7 separate regions of the Homo sapiens genome follow, and regions 1, 2, 4, 5, 6 and 7 are each linked to region 3. Evidence: fine-mapped expression QTL. A gene starts in region 3. Each other region holds a variant in brackets. All regions are shown on one strand. Distances are from middle to middle.

Region 1 (4,067 bases), 220 kb before region 3:
ATGCATTAATTCATTCACTCATTTTTAGTTTGTACTTTCCCATAAGTTGGGAAAAATGGGTTTACTACTTTCCACACCATTATGTAGCTATGGCAGCAATTCAAAGATTCTAATGTAATATAACATTTAGGGCTTATTTAATCCTTCTTTCCTTTAAGAATAAGAATTGGTGGAATAAAAATATAAACTACTGGCCGGGCACAGTGGCTCATGCCTGTAATCCCAGCACTTTGGAAGGCTGAGGTAGCTGGATCATGAAGTCAAGAGATCGAGACCATCCTGGCCAACATGGTGAAACCCCGTCTCTACTAAAAATACAAAAAATTAGCCAGGTGTGGTGGCAGGTGCCTGTAATCCCAGCTACTTGGGAGGCTGAGGCAGGAGAATCGCTTGAACCTGGGAGGTGGAGGTTGCAGTGAGCTAAGATCGTGCCATTGTACTCCAGCCTGGGCAAAAAGAGCGAAACTCCATCTCAAAAAAAAAAAAAAAAAAAAAAAAAAAATATATATATATATATATATATATGTATGTATGTATGTATATACTACTTAATGAAATGATATATGACAATACTTCAAAATCTCTTAAACTGTACCATTAACATATAATGGTTATATAATGAATTCTTTTGGGTTTTTTTCTTTTATTTTTTCTTTTCTTCCTTCTCTCCCCTCCTTTTCTTTCTTTTTTTTCCCTTTAACAGATTTGATATAACATATCCCAAATTCAATTTGCCTCCACTGGTGGTCCTATGGATCCATTACTGATGTTTTCCTCCCACTCTGTGACACCAATGGATAATATGAAAGCCAAGTTCCTAATTCTAACTGTGACAAGTGGTAAATGGCCAGCTTGCCCAGTCCACTTAAGGGATGAGTTCTTGAACTCCCTTGAATGATAACTTCAGGACTAGAGAATTATGTCCAACAATAAAAGTCCTTTTCAGGGTGTTTCTCAGTTTTTACATAAATTTAAATATGCTGGTTCAACCCCACACCCAGTCTAAGTTGCCTAGATACTCACCCCATCAGATCTTATCACTATCCAATGACATGCCCTGTCTATACGTTGGCTTCTTCTACCTGGGTACCAGGTTGTAAGTATTTAATACATGTTGTTGAATTGAATTCAATAAGAAGAAAAAGAAGTAGAGGGAAGGTAACAATGAGGTCTAAAGTGGGTTCTTTTAAGAGATCATTTGAGGACGTGGAGGGAGAAACAAGTGGTACGACCCAGTGGTCTCGCACCATGGAAATGCAAAGCTGCCAGGAAGAACCGAGACCACTACAGGATAATTGTTTTCAGTGTTTCCCTAATGGGAGTCAACCATCAAAGCAAAGTTTCTCAGATGCTGGAACTGGATTGTGAAAAGCAAATAAGAACACAATGTGCTGTTAAAAATCATTCCCTTGGAAATAAATACATCCAATATTGCCGCAAACACTGTAAGCTATTCATCCTCGACTGGAAGCTAGTAAATTCATTAACATCATATTCTAACATTGAAATGAAGACTGTGTTGGAAAACAGTTATCAAAAGATCTATTGAGACAGAGCTCTGAGAAGAGGCCAAGAAATTCTGGCCAAAAGACCAGATAGTGAACTGTTTGATAAATGTATAATAAAACAGCAGAATTGTATTGATACTATTGCTCTATGAAGCTAAAAATACCCTAAACCAGACAGGTTGATTGAGTGTGGATCTGGTACAGAAACAAAGTTACCAAAACAAGGCCAGGGATGGAGGGATATCAAAATGGGGCCCCTTTTTTTCTGGTAGCGTGTGTTTCCTTCTACAAAAAAAAAAAAAAGAAAGAAAATGGTGGTTCACTCAAGAAGCGGGTATTTACAGACAGCTATTACACGGGCAAAAAAAAATGCTTACTTCAAAAGATCTAATATTATTCTTCAATAATATTGTTAATGTGTTTTAAGATAGAGTTATTTTATTTATTTATTTATTTGTTCATTTTTTAAATTTTATTTTAAGTTCCGGGATATATGTGCAGGTTTGTTGCATAGGTAAACATGTGCCAAGGTGGTTTGCCGCACCTATCAACCCATCACCTAGGTA[T/C]TAGGCCCAGCATGCATTAGCTATTTATCCTGATGCTCTCCCTCCACCTGCCTCCCTGAGAGTTCTTTTATTCTTATTATTAGTAAGAACAACCATGATGTTAATTAGGAAAAGAGACCTTGCAGCTCCTGATTAATGGTATCAATGATAATATATCTGAGGTGTATTAGTTTCTTAGGGCCACCATAACAAATGACCATAAAATTGGCAGCTTAAAACAACAAAAATGTATTCTTTCATAGTTCTGGAGCCCAGAAATGTGGACTTGAGGTGTGTGCAGGGCGCAGTCCCTCTCTAGCGGATCCTCCTTGCCTCCTGCAGCTCCTGCTGGCTGCTGGCAGTCCCTGCAGCTGCCGCCACCCAACCCCTGCCTCTTCCTTCATGTGCCCTTCTCCTCTGTGTCTGTCTTCTCCTCTGTGTCTGACTTCTCTTCTGTGTCTGACTTCTCTTCTGTGTCTGTCTTCTCCTCTGTGTGTCTCTGATTTCTCTTAAAAAGACACTTGTCATTGGATTTTGGGCCCACCCAGATAATCCATGATGGTCTTTTCTCGAGATCCTTAACTTCATCGGCAAAGACCATTTTTCCAAATAAGGTCACATTCACAGGTCCCAGGGATTAGGACATGGACTTATCTTTTCAATGCAATCCACGACTGGAAGCATATTCCATGAACAATGGAATGAACACTTCTTTAAAAGAGTTATTAGAAAGCAGTATGTTAACAAAGGTGAGTTCTCCCTTTTCCATCTCTCCCTCTCCTCTCTACATCCCTTAAGAGGAACAGTGCCTGGACTATTTGAGGTCTTTGGTAAGATCTCTAGGGGTGTCACTGTGTCCTAGGACACAGAGCTAGGGACTGTCACAGACTCACAGAGTAGTTGAGTTGGACAGAACTTAGAGGTAACTTGGGGCAACCCTAATCTCACATATGACTCCTCTCTGCAACATTCCTGGGCTGAGGGGCACCCACACTGCTCCAGTGTCTCCAAGTCCATCTTTATGTCCTTGGCTGGCTCTAGGTGCCACTTTCTATACCGCAGTGGTGCCTGGAACCACGCTCAGCCTCCTCATCTTTATGTGCGTCAGTGCCTGTCCTTCCCGTTGTGTTGTTCATCTCTACCAGGAGGGCACTGATCTAAACCACTGTCCTTAGGATGTGTGCATAGAGTAATTCTTTTCATCAAGAATGCTGGCTCTTCCACTTAGGCCTAATAAATATCTTTCATCATGCAGAAAATGCATTTTTAGATGACTGGCTGAGTTTCAGAATCACAGAATTTTAGGGCTGAAGAAAGCTCTACAATTATCTAGTCATTTTAGAAACAAGGAGACAAAAGTCCGAGAGAGAGATCAACAAATGACTGAAGGTCACTCTGATGCCGGGGGGAGAGCCAGGACTTGAACGCACATCCCCTGAAGCCCATCCGAGAGCTTGTTCACTACATCACATATGATTCAGAATGTGACCCAAAGCTTGCTCCGGTGTGAATTACGCTTGACATGCTGGCCCCCTTGGTGCCACCCCGTGAGACCATCAACCCAATGATCATATTCAACAATATTTCCTGAGTGTGTGCTATGGGCAGACAGGCTCTCCGCTCTCACGGAGCTTATACACTCAAGCGAGTAAATGATTAAACAGTACCTGAAAGGCTGCAAGGCTCTAATCAGCTGTCACATTTCGGAGTTGATTGGGACTGAGGTCAGCTTGTTCAGCTCCTGATCCTTCACTGTACCCTTAGAGGAAAGGTGACGTAACTGGAGCTAATGTCCCTACTTTAAAGGTTCCTAGAAGTGTCCAATGTCATCATTTGAGTCAAAAGCACCTATTGGTCTAGAAAATAATTCTCCTCACTTCCTTTCTAGTGCTCAATTCTAAGATAAACCAGAAACCCAAGATCAGTAATGACAACAACAACAACAACCCTGCTTTTATTAAAACTCATCATTGCCCATAAAATAAAGTAGATCTCTTGGGAAGAGTAAAGCCAC
Region 2 (4,067 bases), 290 kb before region 3:
ACTTGTGCTCACAGACACTGCCTGACTCTGACTGGAGTTCCCTTCACCATTTCAATAAAACATGACTGTATTGATATAATCCTCTATACATTAAAATGAGGTTGTCACAGATTGTCATTAAGACCTCAGTAAAACAATGAAGACATTATTGGGCACCCCCCCCCCCCCCCGCCTCAGGCAAGGTATTAGGGGAATAAAGCAATCTACACCACACGGGTCCTATTGAGATTAATGAAAAAATTATGCAAAAAAAAAAAATCTCAATTTCATTTTCCCGTGACGGGGCTTTGCATACATACAGTCAGTCTTGCCTTGCACCTGATGATTTATTAAACTAATCTACAGTGATCACCACTGATGTTCCCAACTCAGTCTTGTCCCGGCTCATTTTCTAAGTAATTGTTTCTCATTAGTTCTGATAATGTTTTAATAGTGTTACCCATAATTTAGACCCCAAGAATTAATAACGGGGGTGATATGGCTAAGCGGCTTGTGATGAGCTACACAAAACATAAACAGGTATGGTTTCTAATGAATCAGATTAGCTGCAAGGTCCTCTTCCTGTCACCCACGCCTGGCTCAGGAGTCGGGCAGCTCTCACTTCCCCGTGTCGGGGGTGCCCAGTGAGCCCAGTGGAGATCACACACCCACCCTTGACTGCTCTCCCACCTTTCCCAGGGTACCTGGGCCCACCCATGGCACCACAGAGACGCGGGTGGGGAAAGAGGGGGAATACCCTTTGCCTTCCAGCATCTTCTTCCTAGAGTTTTGTTCTTCAAGGACTAAGGCACCATGGGTTTCTGATCAGGACTGAACTCTCTTCTGGGACCCTCGTCGTTTGGGTCTCTGTTCAGGGAATGGGACTTTGGTCCAGATTTGTGGCTCTCATAGGTCTTAGTCTCATGATCCTACCCTAATAGGGACCATGGGTTATGAGGAAGATAATGAACTGGACATTTGGGGAGACTGAAACAAGGTGGTTTTGTTTGAACAAAGCAGTTTGGGATGAGGGCAGTGGCGTGGCGAGCAGTCCAATGTGGTTGGGACCTAGGAACCCGTGGCCTGGGAGTGGCCAGCAGCGGGAGGCCTAGCCGGTCCGGCCTCCGCACCACCCAGGGGCCTTGCGGAGGGGCCTGCTTTTCCCCAGGTCTGTAGGGCTCCTTGGCTGGGGACAGGAGGCTCCCAGTGAGGCCTTGAGGAGGCCCCTCTGTGTGGGGCTGGCTGGCTGGCTGCCTGTGGGGCTGGGGTGGAGACTAGAACGCAAGCCCTTCATCCCCTCAAGCCAAGGGCTTCTTTGGATTAGGCTGGAGGATGGGAAGGTTAGTTAGATTGGGGTGAGGGCTGCCCATAGGAAGGACAAGGTGAGGTTTATTTTCTTCTTTTGCTTAGGGCCAGCTCTGCCTCCACTGCTTCTAACACCCTCAGCGGGTGCGTATGGCAGGGGCAGAGTGAGAGAGGCCTTCTTTTGCCTTCCCACTGCCAAGCCATCCTCCCATCCCTCTGTGTTCTGAGCAGAGGGGCAGACTGGGGGTGCACAGCGTGGTCCTGGGTTACCTGGTGTGCACCTGACTCCAGGAGTCCCATCCTTGGTGGGTCCTAGCTGCAACAATGGGTGCTCCTCTGGGAACTGCTGCTGCTGCCCCGTCTGGGGTCTGGAAGCAGTGTGGCTAGAGGCCATTCGGCTCTGAAGTTGGCGAGATGCCATCTTCCTCCTTCCGGCCTCTGAGTGAGGATGGGGCTAGCTCCCACCTTCCTTTCTGGCCGCTCTGGGGCAGCCCAGCGTGGCCAGTGTGGAGGGTGGCACTCCTCTATGAGGGACCCCACGGAGCATGTGCCATCTCCATTTAGGAGC[T/C]ATCTGTCTCCTGGATCCTGTGTTTGAGAAATGAGTTGGTGTCTTCACAGAATGAGGATCCCCAGAGCCATCTTGCCCGGTGCTGGCTCCCCGCATGTCTGTCCCTCTCTGGGTGGGGGTCGCCTGGTGGCGGTGGGACTCTGCGGCCGCGCTTTTGTGTGATGGTGCCTCTCCTGGTGTCTAACCTCAGCTCCTCACCTCTCGGGCTTCCTGTGGGAATTGAGAGAAGTGGGGAAAAGGGGAGGCCTGGTTGGGGCTCATGCTAGGGGCCGCAGAGGAAATAATCCAAAAGGGCGTAGGAGGAGGTGAAAAATGAAAGTAAAAAACAACTGTTTTCTATTTACAAATTTAAATAAACAGAACAGCCTTCCCCGCGGTGTTTGTCTAAGAGTAGCAGCGTTGCTGCTGTGTAGGTCATGAAAAGGTTGGTGTAGAGTTTAAAACTTCCCATTCTGTTAATTTCTTAAGGAACAGTCGTCCAGAGTCTCGGCACAAAAGCTCATGATTTAATGAGGAACAGAAACAAAATCTCTGATTGTTGGTGTTTCAAACTTCATTGGCGTCCTCTGGCAAGCACAAGTTGATCCCTCTGCAGCTTCAATACCCTTTAGCCTTCAATATAAGAGTACATGCTGAATAGGGAACAATGGCTGGTTGTTATGTTTATTTACCCTTACTACAAGCTGGGTTAACCTCTTCAAAACAGCTTTACTAAGCCCGTTAACCACACCACCCATCTGACCTGCAGCCGCATCTCTAATGTGATGCAAATCTCGCAGGGGCCACATGCACCAGCTCGGGTGCATTGTGTCTTCTGAGACGCTACAAGTTTATGACTGAGGGAGTCCTGTCCCAGCCATACATTTCCAGGGGGAAATAGCCTCAATGGCAAACAGTTAAACGGGAAAATAAAGGGGGAGAATGGATGGTCTTGTGTTTCTGCACATTTATTTTTTAATTGCCGGTAATGGTTGACTCACAGCATTCACCCAGGATGACAGCTTTCGTGTTCATCGTCTAGCGGTTCAAGGAGATGGATGTTTCGTTTTAGGGGTGGAGGTTAATAGTAACCAGTTTCGAAAGTTTATTTTCAGAAAGTGTCTTTTTAAGCCAATATAATACTTAGTATTCTTTTTTGATGCCATCTCTGTTGTTTTATCAGATTACTAGTGAAATAGAGATGACCCCTTAATGTTGCTACTATGTTTTAAAGGCCTGGCTTTTCTTAAAATTATTTGTGGTGTCAGCTGTATAAATGAACAAGCAGGAAACATTTACTAACATGAGAAGGGTGGAGGGAATATGTCTATTTGGGAAAGATCCATTTCATTAAAGACCTACCTTCGCCTCACAGCCCATCTTTCCCCAGGATCTTACCTCCCTGTGAAATCATAAGCCCATATTCGTAATACACTAAAAATGATAAAATCATAAGCTTGGATCCAAAGGGAAAAGCGTTCATTTTTTTAGGGGAATAACTGGCCAGTGAGACAACAACAACAAAATTGTGATTAACATGAACTGTAAATGGAGTCAGGTCCCAATCTGGCATCCTAACAAGTTGCTTTGAGTATTGTGGTTTGTCTTTAAGAACCCCACTGTATATGTTCAGCCCACCTGATGACAGCTTCATTTAACAGATCATTTTTCCTTGATGGAGGTGGCAAGCGTAACAGTGTTCTGGGCCTGCTTCAGTAATGGCATGTCGATCATACTCCCTTGGAAAGTAAAGGCCCCCTGGAAAACAGAGAATACAAACTTCCTGAAAGAATACTCGAAATTATAGGTTTCCTTTCTGTGCACACTTGTGCAACAAGAACATTTTAGATTCCACCTGAATTATACTGACTTTCCCGCCCAACTTTTGAGAAAGCCAAAGTAAATTACAGAGGAAACACTTCTTTTTTCCCCCTAAAGAGGGGAAAAAAATAAAAATCTTCAGCATTTTAATGGAGAGGAGAAACACATTGGACACAAGACAGCAAACTGTTCAGTTAACTCTTGAAATCAAGCAGAAAACAGCTGTGGAAGGAAAATCTAAATACTTCCCTATATATTTTTGAAATATTATGTAGAACTTTAAAAGCAAGAATATATTCTGGCAACTGATTATTGTTTTAAAAAATTGTACCATCAGGCTAATGGCAAAATCTTACCTCCTTGCTGTAACATAATTGAGAGGTAACATGATAAGGTTATGAGAAAATGCAAGGTA
Region 3 (4,067 bases):
ACTACACCAACATATACGCAATGGGAGCCTCCGAAAGAGAAGAGAGAGATAAGAGAGTAGACTTTTTTGAGAGAACAATAGCCAAAAACTTCCCAAATTTGATGTATACACATCCAAGAAACTCAATAAACTTCCAAGAGGATAAACTCAAACAGATCTACACACATCATAATAAAACCACCGAAAGACCAAGACAAAGAGAAAATCAAGCAAAAAAAAAAAAAAAAAAAAAAAAAAAAAGACTCATCACTTACATAGAACCCTAATAACATTAACGTCTGAATTCTCATTAGAATAATGGAGGCAAAAAGACAGTGCGATAATACGCTTTAAAATGCTCAAAGGAAAAAAAATGCCAATCAAGAATCCTATATTCAGCGGGTAGACATGTCGAGAACAGACCAGTGTGCTAAGGCGGGTGAGGAGCACTGAGTTAACCCCCAGCGTACTGGCGTGGGGACTGTGTGCGCTCACTGGACCCGCTACTGAACAGGTCACAGACGCTGGCCCCCTCAAAAGGCGCCAGAAAAGGACCCTTCTGGACCAGCCTGGATACACTGCCTGAGCTGCTCCTCTAGGGCGAGGGGTGACTCCCCTGTGCCAGGGGCAGCGGAGGAAATGGGAAAGTGGGATGCATAAGACTAGGTGGGTCCTCCCATAGGACATGGGTGACTGAAGAGTCACAGTGCAAGAAGACGTAAGAAGTTCAGACCCAGGCCGGGCACGGTGGCTCACGCCTTTAATCCCAACACTTTGGGAGGCCGAGGCAGGTGGATCACCCGAGGTCAGGAGCTCCAGACCAGCCTGGCCAACATGGTGAAACCTCGTCTCTATTAAAAATACAAAAATTAGCCGGGCATGGTGGCGGACGCCCTGTAATCCCAACTACTCCGGAGGCTGCGGCAGGAGAATCACTTGAATCCGGGAGGCGGAGGTTGCAGTCAGCTGAGATGGCGCCATTGCACTCCAGCCTGGGCGACAAAAGCGAAACTCCATCTCGGAAAAAAAAAAAAAAAAAAAAAAAAAGAAGTTCCAGACCACCAGGCCGGCCATGGTGGCTCACGCCTGTAATCCCAGCACTTTGGGAGGCTGATCCGGGTGGACCCCCTTGAGGTCAGGAGTTCGAGAACAGCCTGGCCAACATGGCGAAACTCTGTCTCTACTAAAAATACAAAAATTAGCCAGGGGTGGTGGTGCACACCTGTAATGCCAGCCACTCAGGAGGCTGAGGCATGAGAATCGCTTGAACCCAGGAGGTGGAGGTTGCAGTAAGCCGAGATTACACCACTGTACTACAGCCTAGGTGACAGACCGAGACTCTGTCTCAAAAAATAAAAATAAATAAATAAAGAAGTTCCAGACCAGGAGCCATACACTTAGTGTTTGAACCAAACTCTCTCATTACTGGTCATAGGGCTTTGAGAATCCTTAACCTTTCTGACCCTGTTTTTTCATCTTTATAAACATGACACCCAACTTCTTCACATGGTGGTCAAGGGAACCAAATGAGACCATGTATGTGCACGTACCTAGGCGATGGGCAAGTGCTAGACCAGCGGTTCTCAAAGTGTGGTCCAAAGACACCTGAGGGGGTCCCTGAGACCCGTTGAGAGGGTCTGCTTGGTCCTCCCTTTCCCAACTAATATCTGCATCTGCATGAGCCCAGAATTTCTTTCAAATATTTCCTTCAAAACAGCTGATATGAGACTCCAGCTGTCCTTTATTAAACCAAAGAAATTTTCAAAAATATAAAAACCATGAGCCAATCTTCTCACTTTTTTTTTGAGAAGTTATGCATTAAAGTGTTATTTGTATTAAAAGTTAATGGGTTTGTTATTAAGTGAATATTTTTTAAATTTCTGGTTTAATTCCTCATGCACAAAAATCAATAGATATAAGCAAAAGCTTTGGGGGGTCCTCAAATTATTTTTAGACGTGTAAACGGGTCCTGAGACCAAACCGTTTGGGAACCGCTGTGTTAAACGAACCGCAGGTGTTCTTCACCAGGCAAGCCGCCTCTCAAAGACTGGCGCGTTCACGTTTGCCATTTGGGGGAGGCAGGCAGTTTTGTTTCCTGGGGCTGAGTCCAGGTAATTCGACCTAAGGTGTGTACCCATTTTCCGGGTGCAACGAGGGCCCTCCCAAAGGGAGGCGCGGGCGGCAGCGACCTTGGACGAGGTCGAGCCAGCGCGTGGGAGGCGCATGGTGCTTCCGTCCGGCTGGGTTCCCGTGAGGGCTTGGGGAGGCCGCGCCCGGCCCGCGGGGCTGCAACAGGAGCCGACCCGCGGCGAGCCGGGCCGGGAAGGCGGGGAACGGGGACCTGCACTCACAGCCTCAGCAGCGCCGCCGCCGCAGCTCCGCGCGCCGCCCTCCGCAGCAGACGTAGCGCCATCTTCCCGACGCGCGCGCCCCGCCCTTTGCCTTTAGCCACGCCCACCCCACATTCCACGCCCCCACGGCGACACCGACCCCCCCCCCGTCCCAGGCCCCGCCTCGCTCTGTCTTCGCCCCGCCCCGTCCCGCCAGCCACACCCCGCCAGCCACGCCCTCCTTCCTCCCAGCACCCGCTCCGCCCCGCGGCGAGTCCCGAGGTCAACTGCCCTCCCGGCCAGGGCTTAGGACCTTCGTCCCCGCTGTCATGGGGGACAGAGCAGAGGATCTGAATGGTTGGGGCCTCTTTGAGGGGCCTCTCTGGTGACCGAATCCAACTCTCTGAGCTTCTGAGTTTTTGAGGCAACTGTTGACAGACTGCGTTTTCCCAGCCAGAAGAGCCAACATTTCTAGGGATTTCTTCGCAGCTTTTGTTGTTAAAATACCGCCTAATACTTTGTGAGCCCCATCATGTGCATATCTTGGTTAGCAATTAATCTAGAGTGGTCAAAGTGCAGGAAGGCTGCATCCTGGAACACACATGCCTGCAATAGGTCAGAGCAGCTGTTGGCACTCTCTGGGCAGGGAAACTGACAGCAGCTCTTTACTCTGCCCCCTGCAGCCGTTCTGCAGCGGTGAGAACGCCGAGGCGTTAAAACAGGCTGGGCCCTGCCCCTGCCTCTTCTTTCACCTTCCCTGATCCAGCCGGCCTCCACCTGCCGACCTTCACCTACCCGGGCCCATGTTACCCCTTAACCATGTCTTTTCCTTGGCACTCGGCATGTTTCTTTTTCAGCTGTGACTCCGTTCCATTCATGCTCTAGACTTAAACCTGAAACCGTTTCTCAGAACCTTCCAGTGGAAGCTGACTTGTGCTCTTGGATGCAAAAAGTGGCCGTTTAAACAAACAAAAGCCTTTTCAGCCAGAGGGGGTTCCAAGATTTGGAAAAGTCCAGGTGACTGGGAACATGGATGCTAAACTTCTGCTGAGCCTAAGAATTATTGTTATATTCGATACCAACAGGGGAGACTGCTCAACCCCTTGGTGCCCTCCCCCAGCTCCCACGCCTGCTCCACCTCAGGCCTCGCCTGTCTACTCCAATTTGGTCACTTTCTTGTCACCACCTTAGTCCCAGCCAGTGCCCGGTCCAGCCATACTGAAGCCTGAGGCAAAGGCAATTTCAGTAACACCAATCCTGTCTTTAATTAAAATTTTGATATTTTGTTCATAATGGGATTTTTCCATTATCTTGGTTTTTAGTTTAGAATATTACTTTTTTTTTTTTTTTGAGACAGTCTTGCTCTGTCGCCCAGGCTGTAGTGCAGTGGCACGATCTCAGCTCACACACTGTAACCTCCACCTCCTAGGCTTGAGTGATTCTCACCCCTCAGCCTCCTGAGTAGCTGGGACTACAGGCAAGTGCCACCACTTCCAACTAATTGTTTTGTATTTTTAGTAGAGATAGGGTTTCACCATGTTGGCTAGGCTGGTCTCGAACTCGTGGCCTCAAGTGATCCATCCGCGTCAGCCTCCCAAAGTGCTGGGCTTACAGGCATGAGCCACCATGCCAGGCCAATATTACTTATCTTTTTTTTTTTTTTTTTTTCTGAGATGGAGTCTCGCTCTGTCGCCCAGGCTGGAGTGCAGTAATTACTGAGACTTCTCCTTAAATTTTGCATCCCAGGCTGGGGCTGCA
Region 4 (4,067 bases), 28 kb before region 3:
CAGAGATGGGTTTTCATGGAGAATTTTCAACACAGGGAGAGGAGGGGCTTAATAATTGGGAATTCTTCCACTCAACCTTAGCACTTTCATCTTTGGGTGAGCACAATGGCAAACTGGGTAGCCTCTATTACCCTGGCACTTACAAAGATAAAGTTTAAATTAGGTTGGACACAGTGGCTCATGCCTGTAACCCCAGCACTTTGGGAGGCGGGCAGATCACTTGAGACCAGGGGTTCAAGACCAGCCTGGCCAACATGGCGAAATCCCGTCTCTACTAAAAATAAAAAAATTAGCCAGGCATGGTTGCACATGACTGTAGTCCCAGCTACTCAGGAAGCTGAGAAATGAGAATTGCTTGAGCCTGGCTGGGGGATGCAGTGATGCAGTGAGCCAAGACTGCACCACTGCACTCCGACCTGGGCGAGAGAGTAAGTCTAAAAAAAAAAGTTTAAATTAGACCGCAACCACACTCAGGACCTGTCTTGCTAATACTCCATCTTGCCACTGTGACTATAATGGAGTGAAGGCATGGAGAGAATCCAGAACCACTAATTTTTCCTACTTACCCCTCGTAGAACCATCATTTTATCTGTACCCTACCCAAGAAAAGAAGATCCAAGGCATACTGTGCACAACAAAGTTAATAATATCTGCTACTACACATGAAATGTCTTACTTTAAACCTTGCCTCTTAAAATCAGAGATCTCTCTCTAAAAGGAGGGGGCCAGGAATGTAGTGGCTGATACTCAAACAGCCCTGGCAAGAGGAATGGCTCAACAGTGGGGAGCAGGTGTCCCAGCTGCCAGGGAGCAGATCCCACTGTCCAAGCAGAGTTGGCCACGTGAACCTGTGCAGAAGGCACTGGAGGCCCTGCCCAGCCCAGATGTGCTGGCACTGCATCAGCTGAAGACAGGCTCACCAGGTCCCACCTCTGTTTTCAAGCATCAGGAGCTAACAGGTGACCTTTCTATATTGACCACTCAATATTTTCTTACCAGGACTTTAAGACCTTGGTAAACATTAATAATTCTATTTATGCATACATTTAATGATCTGCAGCAAGGGTGAGCAATGAAGGTTCACATAACTGCGGTAAAGTGTTTGTAAAGGTGCAGGTGGCATTTTGCTTGGGGAGATAAAATTGTTATTTCGAAAACATAATTTTAAGAGTCTCTGCTGAAAATATATATAAAGCTTTGAATTTCACATTACGTGAAATTCCACAATTAAAGTTAATATAATCACTCTTTTAACTTAGCAAATGTACTCTGTTAAAATTCAAACTCATTAAAAGTTGAATTCTACAAACATTAAGCACTGCTGGTCTCAAAGAATGTATAGTCTAATGGGAGAGAAAAACATTTAATCAAGTAAATGTTTAATCAACACAATGTTTAAAAAAGTGTTGTAAGAATAAAGCTATAATAGGAACCACACCAAGCACTTTATATATATTATCTTTAGTCCATCTGTCTCAGCAAAGTAAGCAGTAGTATTGTCACCATAAAGATGAGGAAACTGAGACTGGGGAGATTAAACAACTTGCCTGAGCTCATACAGCCAGTAAATGGAAAGACCAGAATTGAGACCAAATCTGTCCAACTCCAAACCCTGTCCTCTTCCCCCAGTCTTCATGGTCTCTCCAAGAGTAGGACAGAGCATTAACAAGAGTTATGGGAGGCCGGGACAGGACCACTCAGTTCAGCATGCTAGGGAATAGGTAAGGCTTCTAGGACATAGGACACAGCATCTCTGGAGGTGAGAATGATTTGCTATGTGAAGACAAGGAAGGAACACAGGAAAAAGCAATAAGCTGCGCAAAGCCAGGAGGGCTGAACATGTGGAAGGGGAGGCTGAATGGCCAGACCTGACCTCACTGGGAGATGAGGGTGGACCCTCACATGTGGAAAACAAGGTTGGACCTGGGTAGGGGCCAGGCTAGGAAGGCCTGGGCTAAAGACAGGACCTCACTCTGCAAACACTGGAGAAGTCTCAATTTGATCCTGGAAAAGGTTGGGGGTGTGGGGGGCGTGGTGC[A/G]GATTATAAAAATCATGACAGAGAAAGGCGGCAGATTTGAGAAGGATTTGGGTCAATTGACCTTGTTAATGACCCCCAGGTACATTTCATTACGAAGACCTAATGAAACGTACCTGGGGTCATTAACAAGGTGAGTTAAAAGGCGGACTCTCAGGCTGCTGGCTTGGGTGACAGAGCACACGATGGTGTCCTGATCACCCGAGATGGGAACCCAGGAGCAGAACCAGCCCTGGCACCCTCTGCAGCTGCCTGCCTTGGAGTAAGATTAAGCCAGACAGTGTGTGGGAACAGGAGTGTTCAGGAGGCCATTTTAGAGCAAGATGTGCCTTCCTGGAGCTGCCGCTCCGGGAATGAGCAGGGACGTCTGGGGATGGGGAAGAAGACCTAGCAATGGAAAGAAGGTGCCCAAGGCCAGAGAGCGCGATCTGATACCTCCTTCACAGCCTTTGTCACGTGACACAGTGTCCTGCTAACAGAGTAGGAAAGAAACCCAATCCTGACTCCCAGTCTACAATGTCTCGATTTCTGTCATATTCCTTACAAGGGAGAAACAGAACATTATTTTCTCATCTTGTATCAAGTATCTCTATTTTTCCTAGCTATTTCATGACATTTAAAAATTTATTTAAAAAAATAAGTAATACATCCACATTAAAAAATATTCAAATGATCAAAAGAAGCACAAAATAATAATTTAGTCTCCTTTTTCATACTCCAAGCTCTCAATCTCTTCCCCTTTTCCACGGGGAAGGTTATCACTGTTAAAGTTTTCTTGCGTGTCCTTCCTGAAATAATTGCTATATAAATATTTATTATTATTACTATTACATGTTTACATCAACACAGATGGATCTATCTGATTATTTTCTTCATCATTTCTGGTTCATTTCTTTTTATAGATCCAAGTTATCATCTGGGGTTATTTCCCTTAAGCCTAAAGAAATTCCTTTAGCATTTCTCATAGTCAGATTCTTTGCAACAAATTCTCTCAGTTTTTGTTTAATTATAAAGGTCTTTATTTGGGCTTCAATTTTGAAGGATAGTTTTGCTGGACGTAGAACCCTGGGTTGATATTTTGTCTTTCAATACGTTTACCTTCTACTCTCCACTGTTTCTGATAAGCAGTCGGCTGTTAGTTATATTATTGTTCCTTCTGTGCACCTTCTTTTTTTCTCAGGCAGCTTTCAGGACTTTCTTATTTTTGGATTTCAGCAATGTGGCTCTCATGTGCATGTGTGTGTTTTAATTTATCTTGCTGAGTGTTTGTTAAGGGATCAGTGAGTTAATGGATTTCACCGAATTTGGAACATTTCTGGTCATTATCCCCTCAAATATTTTTTCTGCCCTAATCTCTTTTTTGCTTCTGGAACTCCAACTATACATGTTAGACTGCTTGGTACTGTCCCACAGGTCTCTGAGGCTCTATTTGCTTTTCTTCAATCTTTTTCTTTTCCTCAAACTGAGTACATACGATTGATCTATTTTTCAGTTAACTTTGTCTGCTATTGAGCTTACTGGTAAAAATTTCTATTTAGTTCATGTATTTTCACCTCTCTTTTCATAAAATTCACAATTTTCACCATTTTAAAGTTTAAAATTCACAGTGCTGTACAAGCCTCACCACTAGCTCAAGAACACTTTCATCAACACAAAAGGAAACCCCATATGCATTAAACAATCACTTCCCATTCCCTCCTCCCCTCAACCTCTGGCAACCACTAACCTTTCAGCTCTTTTTCATAGCTATTTTTTTTTTTTTTTTTGAGACAGAGTCCTGCACTGTCACCCAGGCTGGAGTACAGTGGTGCCATCTTGGCTCACTGCAACCTCCACCTCCCAGGCTCAAGCGATTTTTGTGCCTCAGCCTCCCAAGTAGCTGGGATTACAGATGCGTGCCACCATGCCCAGTTTTGTATTTTTAGTAGAGACGGGGTTTTGCCATGTTGCCCAGGCTGGTATCAAACTCCTGACCTCAAGTGATCCGCCCACTTCTGCCTCTCAAAGTGCTGGGATTACAGGCATTAGCTAC
Region 5 (4,067 bases), 50 kb before region 3:
GAAAAGGGGGTGTCAAAAAATTCAAGCCTGGCTTTTTGCATATGTAGTGAAACTGAAGGCACTTCCCCAGCAAGTATTGAAATGCACAGATAAGAACACAAAAGGCCTTGAAGTGGTTTGAAGGGTCGCAATTTGCTATTAAACACAGCAGATGGAAACCTGTGAAAGCCCACTTAACGGAACTTTTGAATGCTCCTGTGTGAAATCAAGAGTCATGCACAAGTTAGGGCAATCACTGATTCTACAGTTTTTTAAATTGCACTCTCAGTTTGTTAGAGGAGAAATACACACACACACGCATATATATACATATATATATATACACACACACACACATAGCTTAGAGGATGATTTAGAAGAGGAATACTAATCCCCTCTCTGTCAGAAATTAAAATGCAAGGGTGAATAGCATGCAACTAAGTACCAGCAAAGAGTAAATATTGGTTATGTTTAGGAAAGAGCATAAAAACAGATGTGATATAAAGTTAGACCTTTCACTTCAAAAAATACTAAGCAACTAGTTCTTTGCCCCTGGGGGAAAAATCTCTTTTAATTATGTAAAAAGTGAAGAGACGGTAGTAGGATTCTTTACCTTTGAATACTAAATTAGGAAACAGCAGCATCAAAGGCAGGCTTGATCTGTTTTGCCTGAAAAATTAATAGGCTTTACAAGTCCTTTGCAATGGAGTCTAGGATTGCATAAAAAAAGAGGCTCTGGTGACACCAACAGTCCCAGGAACAAAATGCAGCTGTGGAGGCGGGTTGGGGGTTGGGAGAGGGTTTTTGTTGTTTGGTTTTGGGGGATTTTTTTTACTTTTCTTTAATCAAAATGGATAAACCCGGCTGCCGAAACTCCGCAGAGAACCTGCTCTGCCCGAGGCTTCCTCCCCACCCCACCTCCTTGTTCCTGTCCACACCCCGCCCCGCTGCCTGTGGCCGAGGCCTGTCGCCGGGCTGGAGGGCCTAGCTACCCCAACTCCGCGGTTTCAAAGCGCAGAGAGTTGAAAGGAGGGGAGGCCGGCGTGGGGGAGAGGGACACAGGAGGAAAGGCCTCAGTCAGAGTCCCCGGCAGCCTCGGGGTTTCGCGATGGTTCCCTCCTGGTCCCTCCTGGAAGTGGGAGGCGGACCCTGCGCTTTGCAGCAGAAACTTTCTGGGAGCCTGGAAGACTTGTCACCCAGTCCGCGGTCTCTCCAGCAGTGGGAGGAGCGCTGAAGGTGGTGATTACTATCGACAAACCTAAAATTCTTTCTCTTGAGAGCTCCCACACTATTCACCCCGAGTGGGCCTGCGGATGAAGCTGCTGGTGCCAAAAAGGGTAGGAGGGGGCGCCATGGCAGTCCCCTGCCGGCGGCCCCTTATGAAACCGGGCCGGTTGCTCTGCAGAGCGCACGCAGGCGGCCTTCTGCTCGCACATCGAACTGGCATCCTCGTCTTTTGTCCATGACGTCCCTGTGCCCCACTGCTGCAGCCGAGAGGGACCGCGGCACCAGCGGGCAGGGAGGGCTGGCGCGCCCCGCCAGGTCAATAGCAGGAAACTCCGAAGGCAGGGCGAGGAAGGCACGGGCTTGGGTTCTGC[C/G]CCGGACTGCGAGGAAACATGGAGACTCAGGGCGAGCAGCTCCTAAGGAAGCCGACTTGGCTTCTGTTCCTGGGAAAAGCGGATCAAGAAACTCGCTGAAGACCACTATTTACAGATGAGCCACAGCAGAGCTGCTTAATTCACTCAATAACAAACCTTAATTGCTCAAAACAAAGCAGCTAAGTCTCTTTAGAGTGCTTCAAAGGCCCTTCACATTGTAACTTGCAGTATAAAATGTATGCAATATTTCCAAAAAAGAAAAAAAATTCAGAATCAAGGATAAAGTTAGAACTTTACCTTAATCTTCTTTTAAAGAGTTTTTTTCCCCATCTCCCCCTCTAATTAGGTCAAAATTTAGATGTTATTATGATCTAACTACAATCTGTTTATTTTACTGCCTTTTTAAAAGAAAAGAGACATTTGTGCCTTAATCCTAAAAAGCCCCAAATCTGAATTTAAAAGAATAACATTATTGGACAATTATATGGAAAGTCAAGAAAGATTTTTGAAAGAACTATCAAAAGACAATATTTATATAGAATTCAAGCATTAGCGGTGAGCCTGACACAGCAAAACCATTGTATTTTCCACTAGTTTTGTTTTGCTCTATACAGCTGTGTTTTCACAGATGCAAAGCCATGTGTCTCCACCAAAAGGTTTAGCCCTCCCTTCAGATGTGAATGCGGATCAAAGGTTCAAACGCAGAAATACAAGATCCTTTTCCCTTTGGAACATGTTTTTATTTTTCTGCAGTGGCTGCAAACCAGAATTTCCATCTGTTGTCCTTCTGCAGTATACAGGTTAACCTTAACAGTGGGGCTCGGAGCACTGTTATCTCAGCTAAGAAGTGCACAGATGAAGCACGTCTGCATGTACCATCAGAGCAGCTCCCCAAGATGTCCACGCAGCTAAGACAGAATTGAACCAGGCAGGAGCAGAATCCATTTTAGTTGACATATAGAAATTAATTTTCATTTCTGTGCAACATCAGAACGGATGATGAATTTAAGATGGGGTTTTGCTTTCACACCACATGCACCTTGGTAAAGATAACATCAACCATGATTTCCTGTCTGTCCCTCCTCCTTCCTAGAGCCAGCAGTATGCAATAAGACATTTTGCATTTGAATCTCAGCTTGCTGAAAATTCTCTAACAACAGAAAATGATTTGATAAAACAACTCATTAATTTTAAGTATCTTACAATTTACCAACCCATAATTTTGAATGGAAATTTTAAAAAAATTTGTTACCTATTAATCCTTTTAATAACTCATCCTCTCAATTTCCATTTCTTTATCAAACATACCCTCAGAGTGACTGAGAGAGAAACAGGTTTCTCTATTACCTACTCTAAACATGGATTTACTGCCATGTAAACATTGGCTTAGGAGAACAGTAAAAATGCGGCAATGCAGCTAACAAGGTGGGAGGCTTTGAAGGTATTTCTGCCAGGTTTTTAAGGTCACTAAATGTTAAGAGAAAAATGAACTAGAGAGGAACATATATATATACCTATCTGTAGACGATCAAGAGAGGTTAGAGGGACAAATGGCGGGATGACAGATACAAAGCTTTGGCTAGTTCATGGGGAGATTTTACAGAAGCCCAAAGTGGAAAGTGCCGTGGACCCGACTGAACACCAATGTGTGAGTGCCATCTAGTGGTCTGCCTAGAACTGCACCCTGGTCTACTCCCTGACAAACACGCCACCCTAAGGTCTGGGGGTTCTCCACCCCATTTCTCCACCGCATCCTGGCTCATTCTATCACTCCCAACCCTTCTATCCGATTACTGTACCTTTTCTGCTCTAATTACAAATAAACTAAAAAGCCAAAAAGCCTCAGAAAACAAAGCAGGAAGAGTGATAATCTCAAAGGTGGGGGTGGGTCTGGAAAAAAGGAAAGTGGCCTCACAGGTCTCCCCGCGAGACTGTCACAGAGCTGTGCAGGAAGGCTTAAAAGGGCTGGCTCCAAGACAATAAGGAATCGTCTTGACCGCACCTGCGAACCAGACTAAATGAAAAGTGCGCCCTGCCGCCTACACATGCCCTCTCTGTCCTCAGTATGTTAACCTTTCTGGGGGGAAATAATTAACTCGATGACTGGGCAATGGTTCACTCATCAATATCTCTTCCTAGGTGCTCTGTAAAGAGTCAAGTCCAATGTGACGTAGGTGGAGCTAGTGTTCATGATGTCAGGCCATCCCTGCCATCTGACTCACGGGCACCCAGACAGGGCCACGTCATCAGCTGACACCAGGTCCCACAAGCAAGGCCCACACAGCTTCCCAGGCTTCAAATACTTGCTCTGATTGTCAGCTTCATGGCAGATCAAGCCACCAATGTGTTATTTAGTGGGATGAAAGAGGACGCCACCCCAGGCTCTGCCAAGCACACCCCCTAGTAGCGCCCCTCCAGCCACCAAGGTGGCAACACAGCCTGGGAGAAAGGCCAGAGCCCACTGACTTGCATTTCTGTCCCAGCAACTAG
Region 6 (4,067 bases), 43 kb before region 3:
ACTCCTGACCTCATGATCCACCCACCTCTCCCTCCCAAAGTGTTGGGATTACAGGCGTGAGCCACTGCACCTGGCCACAACCAAGAATCTTAACTGATGGAAAGCCACAACCCAGAATTCCATTTCACTCAAAAAATATTTATTCAATTCTTTTTTGAGACGGGGTCTCGCTGTGTCACCCAGGCTGGAGTGCAGTGGTGTGATCTTGGCTCACTACAACCTCCGTCTCCTGGGTTCAAGCGATTCTCCCACCTCAGCCTCCCAAGTAGCTGGGATTACAGGCATGCGCCACTACGCCCAGCTAATTTTTGTATTTTTAGCAGAGATGGGGTTTAGCCATGTTGGCCAGTCTAGTCTAGAACTCCTGACGTCAGGCCACTCGCCTTGGCTTCCCCAAGTGCTGGGATTACAGGCGTGAGCCACCTCACCTGGCCTATTTATTCAGTTCTTGTCATGTGCTTGGCACCAAGACAGATGCTGGGCCTGCAATCAGGTACCAGCAGTAGCGCTATGACCTAGGTGGTTGGATCTAACATGGGAGACAGCACAGGGTACAAAGAGCAGAGATCACATTGGGCAAAGCTACTGGAAGGCAGAGGAAGGGTGTCTGCTGGCCCACGGCAGTGTGGGTGACTGCTAAGTCATCAGAAGAGAAGATATTTGGTCAGCAAGATCTCAAGGAAGATGAGAGGAGGGCTCTGTAGGGAGAAGCAGCAGCATGAGCCATGGCAGAGACAGAAAGGAGCTGGAGTATCTCACCACCCTGAGAATTTTAATGTGATTGGAAGGTCAGAGACATGGGGTAGGAAGATGATTCTGGGAAGGTAATCTTGGGTTAGGGTGTAAAGAACACTGTAAGGTCTTCATTCCTCAGTGTTGAGAGTGACTGCTGCTTGTGGAGAGGAGCGCAATGACGTCTGTGTTCAGAAAGCTACTTCTGGAAGATGGACAGGAGAGAGGAGAGTCCCAGAAAAAAAGAGCCACAATGGCTGGGAGCCATGTGGAGATGCACAGAATCCAAGGGTCTAGTGGAGGCAAGAATGACTCCAAGGATTTCAGCTACAGGACGAGGAAAGGTGGTGCTAGAGTCCATGGAGGCAGCCTCCAGCACCCTCCAGCAGCCTCTGTGCTGACCTTACTCTCTAGAAGAGCACATGTACCTGAGCCAAATCAAAACTCAAGTTGCTGCCAGTGAGAATTTGGCAACAGTTTCTGTCACCCTGGGCAAGGAGAGGAAAGTAGATGGGCAACTGAGGTTTCTAACACTCTTCTTATTTCTTCCCCTCTTGAAAACTTCTTTTTTTGAGACAGGGTCTCATTCTGTCACCCAGGCTGGAGTACGGTGGGACAACCATAGTTCACCGTAGCCTTAAACTCCTGGGCTCAAGCAATCCTCCTGCCTTAGCCTTCCCAGTAGCTGGGACTACAGGTGTGCGCCACCATACCACTCTGATTTTTTTTTTGAGACGGAGTCTGGCTCTGTCGCCCAGGCTGGAGTGCAGTGGCGCAATCTCTGCTCACTGCAAGCTCCACCTCCTGGGTTCACGCCATTCTCCTGCCTCAGCCTCCCGAGTAGCTGGGACTATAGGCGCCCGCCACCACGCCCAGCTAATTTTTTGTATTTTTAGTAGAGATGGGGTTTCACCGTGTTAGCCA[T/G]GATGGTCTCTATCTCCTGACCTCGTGATCCGCCCGCCTCGGCCTCCCAAAGTGCTGGGATTACAGGTGTGAGCCACTGCGCTTGGCCTACCAGTCTGATTTTTAAAAAATTTTTTGTAGGGATGAGGTCTTGCTATATTGCTCAGGCTGAAAACTTTCTTTTTTTTTCATGAAGCATCATATAACTTTTTTTTTTTTCTTTTGAGACAAAGTGTTGCTCTGTTGCCCAGGCTGGAGTGCAGTGGCACATGATCACTGTTTACTGCAGACTCCAACTTCTGGGCTCAAGTGATCCTCCCATCTCAGCCTCCTGAGTAGCTGGGACTACAGGTGCCCACCACTACATGTGGCTAATTTTTGTATCATTTGTAGAGATGGGGTTTCGCTCTGTTGCCCAGGTTGGTCTCATGCTCCCGGCTCAAGCAGTCTGCGTGATTTGGCCTCCCAAAGTGCTGGGATTACAGGCGTGAGCCACAGCGCCTGGTGGACTCATAGAACATTTAACACATAAGTCCTCCATCAATATTCCAAATTTTCCCCACCCTTCAACTTATCGGCAAATAAGTAAGATTTTTCAAAGAAACAATGACATTGCAAAGGTACACCTACTTAACTGTGTAACTGTTTAGCTTTTCTATCTTCATGACATAATTTTTAGAGGTGCTTCTATTCCTCACAGAACTGCACCTGCACCAGTATATGAAAAATGGGTGCCAATTAGTAGTATTTTAGTTAAAACCGTTTCCCCACATCATTGTCTTATGCTAGAAGCGAGCTGGCATGAATAACAAAGGGTTGCTATTAATAGTACAACACAGAATGCAAGCGGAAAACTTGAGTGAAATTATGTTTTTTAAAACCCACTGTTTAGTGCCCAGAAAAGGGACAGACTGTGCAGCATCTGTGCTGGGGGGAGATGGAACTAATAAATCATTGCCATTTTTACTATGCACAGGCAGAATCTGATGTACATCCAAAGCCAAACACATTGGCTGTCCGAGAAAAATGATTTACGTTCCAGGGCTTTTTTTCACTCAATTGAAAGTTTATGCATTTAGCATCCTAGATGATTTTATTAATTTACATCTCCTGTAATTATTAAGTTTTTTAAGAAAATTTTGGGGATGGGTTAAATGTATGAATGAAATATAAAAATATATATATCCTTATGTTCAAACATAAAATATTCATTTCAAAGTCCAACTTGCAGATGTAAAGCCATGTAAAACATAAGACTGAGCTAGAAAAAAATGATACCTTGATGTGTAGATAAAAAAAATACTAGTGACACTAGGTAGCTAACATTCTATTATCAGTTCAAGAAAGGAGTAAGAAAAGTACATTTTCTTATTGAATTAATTTGACCAGAATCAAAGCAAGTGTAGAAAAGACCCTAAACACTGATAACAGTGCAATATCCATCTTCAATAAATAACAAGCTTATGATGATTTCTTATGCTGTTAGCACATCTGGCTGCCCTATCTACTCTGGAACACAGAAATGTAAGAAAAAGGGGCCTTTAAATAGTAACGCAGGCAGCTCCACTAATCAGATTATCATCATAAGGTATTGACAGCAAGAAAAGTCACAAAAAACCAGGGCTAGCAGGAATGCTGTTTCAGAATTCAACGAACAATGGACTATTTATTTCGGCATTCCATAATCATTTTGCTTACACACTCTTGTTAGAAAACTGGTAAAATTCAGAAAAGCAGACCTGGAAGGACTGATGAACATTCGGAGCCTTCTGAATAGTCCATGGCGTTGAGATTTTTGTCCGAGGACTTGAAAAGTTAAAGGCATAGTCCTGCCAATTGTGAGATGCCCTCTCCAACACAGACCACCCACAACTACGGATTTTCCATCTGGTGAACAAAACAGACAGCTCCCTAATTATTTTTAAAAAGGATTTTTCCCCCCCGAACATACTTTCTTTATTTGTCTGTGACCTGGAACTTAATGGAAAACCTGGTGCATGCCAACTTCATTTCTCATAATGAAATATCCTATTTTATTGTTTTAACTGGTTTTAAAGACTTTAAGATAGAAATTATTACCCCCAGAGCCAACACACCAAGCCACCAAGACAATTCCAATGAACTGTTTCCTCTGAACAGAGAATATCTTGTTTAAATATTAGCCACTGAAGTTTTCTCTCACAACCAACAAGATGAAAATAGGAGGGAAATTATTTGCAATCGTTCTCAACTGGGCACCCATACTGCTAGTGTCAAAATCTATGGCTTTTCCAACAAGATGGCCACCTCTGCCAAAAGCATGCTCAGAAATGCCAACTGTAATTAAAATCTGGCACCTGTCTTGGGCACCAAATTTGCTTCTAATATCTCCAGTTGAAATGTGTCTCAGCTTCGAGAGGACTTAAGATGCTTCTTGCCCTCTGCCCTTTGGA
Region 7 (4,067 bases), 260 kb before region 3:
TGGAGAACTTGGGGAGACGGGAGGGCACTTGTTTTGAGAGGGCTGGAAAGCATCGATATGCCTTCTGTAGCCCGCTGAACCGTTGGATACACAAGTCTCCTGGAAAGACTCGTATTCAAATAAATTCAGTTTTTTCACCCTGAGGGGAGGGAAGTGTCCCTGTTTACATTTGGAACATGCCACTCCCTGCCTAGGGAAAGTGCCTGTCTTCAGGTCACTGGGGCTGGTTTCTGTGGCCTCGGCCTCTTTTCTAAATGCTTCACGGTCTCCAGTCAAACATGCAGACCCCTCAAGTGCAGCTCACAAGGGATGGTGAGAATCGGTGAAAATCAGCACATTTAATACTAAGAGTTCGAAACATATTGTAAGAGAAATTTAAGATCCATTTAAAATAATATTTACCTACCGCATATTCTGTAGAAAACAATTCATTAAGGCAAATGTGAAATTGCCTTAAATTTGCGTTAGAAATCTAGACAGCCCACAGACTGATATGAAAACAAAATACTGAAGCAACGGTGAGGCTGTTCACATAATATATTTATTAGGAGCAAAGGAGATGCCATATATTCCTGAGCATGCCTGGGGCTGCAACAGGCTTTCTATTGCTCGTGTCTTTTATAAATGAACAGAAGTAATAATGCAGTGCTCTAGAAGCAGGGCAGCTATGAGGAGCCCTAAATTATCAGGAAGTAGTGTCCATTCCATTGTCATGAAAAACCATTGTCATGGTTGGCAAATATACATTGTTATGTAAATGTCCATCCTTGAGGGGCAAAGAAAAAATATATACACACATATACACACACACACACAGAAAAAGAGAGAGAGAGATGTCTTTGACACCTATGCTGGCTCGAAAGTCTTCTCCTCCAAAAACGACTGCATCTAGAAAGAGACCTACTTGAGGCCCGACCTTCAGGGTTTCTTCACACACTGCCTGTAAAAGAGCAGAACAGAACTAAGTCTCACGGAAACGCGTGCGTCAGAGGGAAGAGGCACGGTGCATTTCAGTAACAGGACGACCTGACTCTTAACACAGTTTGGCTGAAAGCAGTCCTAAAAACGCAGCCCAAATTTACCCCTTTCAAAAGGTATTTAATATCATCCAAGATAAGTATATTGTATATATTTGCTTTGTTTAATGGATTATATGAATATAGTTATAATGTTCAAATTGTAGTTCATCTCATTTTTGGAGAAACTTTGAGTTAACTCATTTTGCTTGCACTATAAGTTATTTATATCTTTCCAGAATTCGTTTTTGCTTTAAGAGACTCTCGTAAAACCACAGGGGAGAAGGAAGGAATTTTAAAATCAAACTAATTGAATTATTTGCATTAGGATCAAGCACATGGTCTCAGGATTAAAGACAGCACAAAAACCTGCAACTCCGGAGGGGAAAATAAAAATGCAACAAGTCATCCAAGATGTGTTCATAAAGCAACTTCGACATTTATATATGAAAGTCAAGGCAAATACCATTCGTCGTAGACATAACCGTGAATCTTGAAAGGTGGAGATATAACCTGCTAATAATATACGTGGGTGGGAAAGAAACGAGGAACCGGTGGGGACACTGTTGATTAATTTCAGACATTGTAAGTGCTTCTAAGTACATTATGGAATAAAATGGCGAAGCAGTGCTTAAAATTAAATCACTGGATGAATCTGGTTGCATCTTAGGGATATGCTTTTGATTATATTCTCAGGATTCTGGGGCTGGCTGGAAGAATGTATGGTTAGTTGTGTAAACAAGCTGCTCACAGGACAAGGTTTGAAGCAGGTCCCCAAACATTTGCACTCGACCCCTTCTGCACATCCCAAGGCCTCAAAGTTGCCGCTCACACATTCTCTCTCCAGTACAGTTCGACTATGTTTTTTCTGTTGTTTTTAGTGATTTCTTTTCTCCTGCCCTCTGTGGGGGCTGGGGTGGGGGAAGGGAATCTAGGAACTCTGAAAGGGGGTGCTAGATTGATGTTCGCAGGTCAGGTGGAATGAGAGGCATATTTTGGAAAATAATATAAATGCCCCCTGATAAACGAGAAAAAACGAGCTAGCTCTGAATTTGTTAAGACCGGTAGTTTAGTGCAACCACACAACGGCTGAAAACACTTGGCTCAGCCAATATTCCCGCATGTATATTAGAAGATATTCTAATGTGGCAAACTGAAAAACTGTACTGCAAATTATTTGTGTGCATGAACTTACAAACAATAATCTTCTCTGCTAGACATTACTGATAATGTTGCTACAGAGAGGGCAGAACATTTCCCACTGAAAAGA[CATTTGATAGAAAAGAA/A]CATTTCAAAGTTAATTCATAAGGGTGACAAATTTTCATGTACATTTAGTCTATAAATGCAATAATTCAAAGCATATAATTACACAGTGATTAGTTAAAATTGTTACTAGGAATATACAAATGCTTCATTTAAATATTTTGGACTGGGAAGCTTTTCCTTCTACCTAACTGATTTCATTGTTTTCTAAGATGCTGGCAACCTGGTTTTTGGACTATTACAGATAACAAATGGTGCTCAACATTTCCTTTGCTTATAAATCTTTCTAGAAACACATTTTAAGAAGATGTTAAAATTGAAAGCAAAAGTTCTCTTTAGGTGATAAATAAAATGCTAACTTATTAACCGTATTATGGCTTCCTTACCTTAAAATTGAGCAAACCCATTGCAGTTTCCACAAAAGGGATTAAATTCATTGGTTGTTCAAGTTTTCGGCCTTTTAAGTGGAATGAAAATTTGTCTGCAAACTAAAATCAGAAGTGTCATAGGTGATTAGTGGGGAAAAAATGTACAATCACGGAAATGTAGACCCAGAAGTAGTATTTAAGTCTTTGACCTGAGGAAGTAATATCCAAGCCTCTTTCGTCCACACAAAAGAATTTTTTTAAAAAAATAAGAAGAAAGTCCAAAGAAAAAGGTAATGAAGTTCCCACCAAACTAAATAGTAAAATCCTAAGCATTACAATTTTTTTCTCCCAAAGGAGCAACTTGAGGCCTAGGAGTTAGAACTGGAAGGAGAGAGTATAAACGCTTTCCCTGAAAACGCATTTACTTAAGACCTCTTGCCCTCGCTTCGTTAAATGCAAATGGTAGGCCCTTAAAACAATGAACTCTTCCTCTACCTGCCATTCTGTTTTTGTTTCGTGCCCAGCACTGACATCAGTGCAACTGTTCAGCAGCCTTCTACGTGGAGTCCATATTATTCATTATAGCACCATTACCCTTTGTTCAGAAGGTTTTTCTTCATAATTTTTTAGCTTACCTAGGAAGACCTTAAAAAGGAAGTTTAATTCTTTGAAGACCAAAGCTCGCCAATTTTTTCCATGAGACCAGTTCACAGCTAGCTCTGTGCTGCCAGTGGGGTAGCCCAAATTCCAAAATCTATCATCTGGAAACATACAAAAGCTCTTGCCCAGATTCCTCCCCCTCTTCAAAAGGGGGAAAAAAACACACTCTAAATTGTAAATCTATTATGTCTATCTAGATCTAATAAGATGTGGGGAGATAGATAGAGAAGAAACACAGGTATGATAAAGGTATTTTTGTAAATAAAGATGAAAACATATATATCCATTTTAAATTTAAGGAATATTCAGCCATTAATAGATATCAAAGGAAAAGGGAATTTTAATCATCTCTCCATTCAGTCTCAGTTGGGTAAATCATATCTAAGAGATTTGCATAAATATAAACCATCAAAGACTTTTCATCTTCAAAGGGGGTTTCAAGACCCTATAAGCTTTGTACTGTAATCATCACAGGTCACCACCCTGCAGGAATAAGGCTGCTATGGCAACATAAAAAAACTAATGCTTAAGGCTTAGCATAATATTCTGACTAATAGAAAGGAAACTCATTTGAAAAGCTGGCAGCCTATTTACCAGAAGCGGGATTAGAGGTGTTATTTCCCCTTCTAGCTGCCCCCTCCTTGCCGGTGCACCACCCCCCTAAAAAATCTAATCACTGGGATCTTTAAAAAGCTTTTGAGCAATTTGCAGTAACTTTACAATTAGGCTAAAATAAATCACAGCTTTCAGTAATGAAGAA

Evidence for each region.
Region 1: its variant is fine-mapped to the expression of CLYBL in monocytes after interferon gamma (Fairfax 2014, PIP 0.95).
Region 2: its variant is fine-mapped to the expression of CLYBL in whole blood (TOPMed, PIP above 0.99). The same link has a PIP of 0.9 or more in skeletal muscle.
Region 4: its variant is fine-mapped to the expression of CLYBL in whole blood (TOPMed, PIP above 0.99).
Region 5: its variant is fine-mapped to the expression of CLYBL in whole blood (TOPMed, PIP above 0.99).
Region 6: its variant is fine-mapped to the expression of CLYBL in thyroid (GTEx, PIP above 0.99).
Region 7: its variant is fine-mapped to the expression of CLYBL in left ventricle (GTEx, PIP above 0.99).

The regions. Positions count from the first base shown.
Region 1 is chr13:99,829,466-99,833,532 of GRCh38, reverse strand. The region is part of intron 2 of CLYBL (citramalyl-CoA lyase); the gene reads right to left. All of the region lies in intron 1 of CLYBL-AS3 (CLYBL antisense RNA 3), which reads left to right. Among named protein-coding and RNA genes, the nearest start is that of CLYBL-AS1, 100 kb to the right of the region's middle. The variant T/C (reference allele first, on the strand shown) is at 2,075.
Region 2 is chr13:99,890,840-99,894,906 of GRCh38, reverse strand. CLYBL (citramalyl-CoA lyase) reads right to left here. Exons shown (of 9, transcript NM_206808.5): 8 at 3,470-3,589; 9 at 2,337-2,464. The coding sequence ends at 3,494. The region is part of intron 1 of CLYBL-AS3 (CLYBL antisense RNA 3); the gene reads left to right. Among named protein-coding and RNA genes, the nearest start is that of CLYBL-AS3, 64 kb to the left of the region's middle. RefSeq lists enhancers at 1,151-1,704, 1,705-2,258, 2,259-2,813. The variant T/C (reference allele first, on the strand shown) is at 1,853.
Region 3 is chr13:99,605,021-99,609,087 of GRCh38, reverse strand. It overlaps CLYBL (citramalyl-CoA lyase), which reads right to left and starts at 2,398. Exons shown (of 9, transcript NM_206808.5): 1 at 2,331-2,398. The coding sequence starts at 2,392. It overlaps LOC105370332 (a long non-coding RNA gene), which reads left to right and starts at 3,239. Exons shown (of 3, transcript XR_931674.3): 1 at 3,239-3,326. RefSeq lists a silencer at 2,058-2,617 and enhancers at 2,339-2,633, 2,556-3,535.
Region 4 is chr13:99,633,269-99,637,335 of GRCh38, reverse strand. The region is part of intron 1 of CLYBL (citramalyl-CoA lyase); the gene reads right to left. Among named protein-coding and RNA genes, the nearest start is that of MIR4306, 7.8 kb to the left of the region's middle. The variant A/G (reference allele first, on the strand shown) is at 2,039.
Region 5 is chr13:99,655,472-99,659,538 of GRCh38, reverse strand. All of the region lies in intron 1 of CLYBL (citramalyl-CoA lyase), which reads right to left. Among named protein-coding and RNA genes, the nearest start is that of MIR4306, 14 kb to the right of the region's middle. RefSeq lists enhancers at 1-296, 1,177-1,226, 1,237-1,326, 3,227-4,067. The variant C/G (reference allele first, on the strand shown) is at 1,578.
Region 6 is chr13:99,647,659-99,651,725 of GRCh38, reverse strand. All of the region lies in intron 1 of CLYBL (citramalyl-CoA lyase), which reads right to left. Among named protein-coding and RNA genes, the nearest start is that of MIR4306, 6.6 kb to the right of the region's middle. The variant T/G (reference allele first, on the strand shown) is at 1,657.
Region 7 is chr13:99,861,691-99,865,757 of GRCh38, reverse strand. It overlaps CLYBL (citramalyl-CoA lyase), which reads right to left. Exons shown (of 9, transcript NM_206808.5): 4 at 2,666-2,767; 5 at 847-940. All of the region lies in intron 1 of CLYBL-AS3 (CLYBL antisense RNA 3), which reads left to right. Among named protein-coding and RNA genes, the nearest start is that of CLYBL-AS3, 93 kb to the left of the region's middle. The variant CATTTGATAGAAAAGAA/A (reference allele first, on the strand shown) is at 2,287.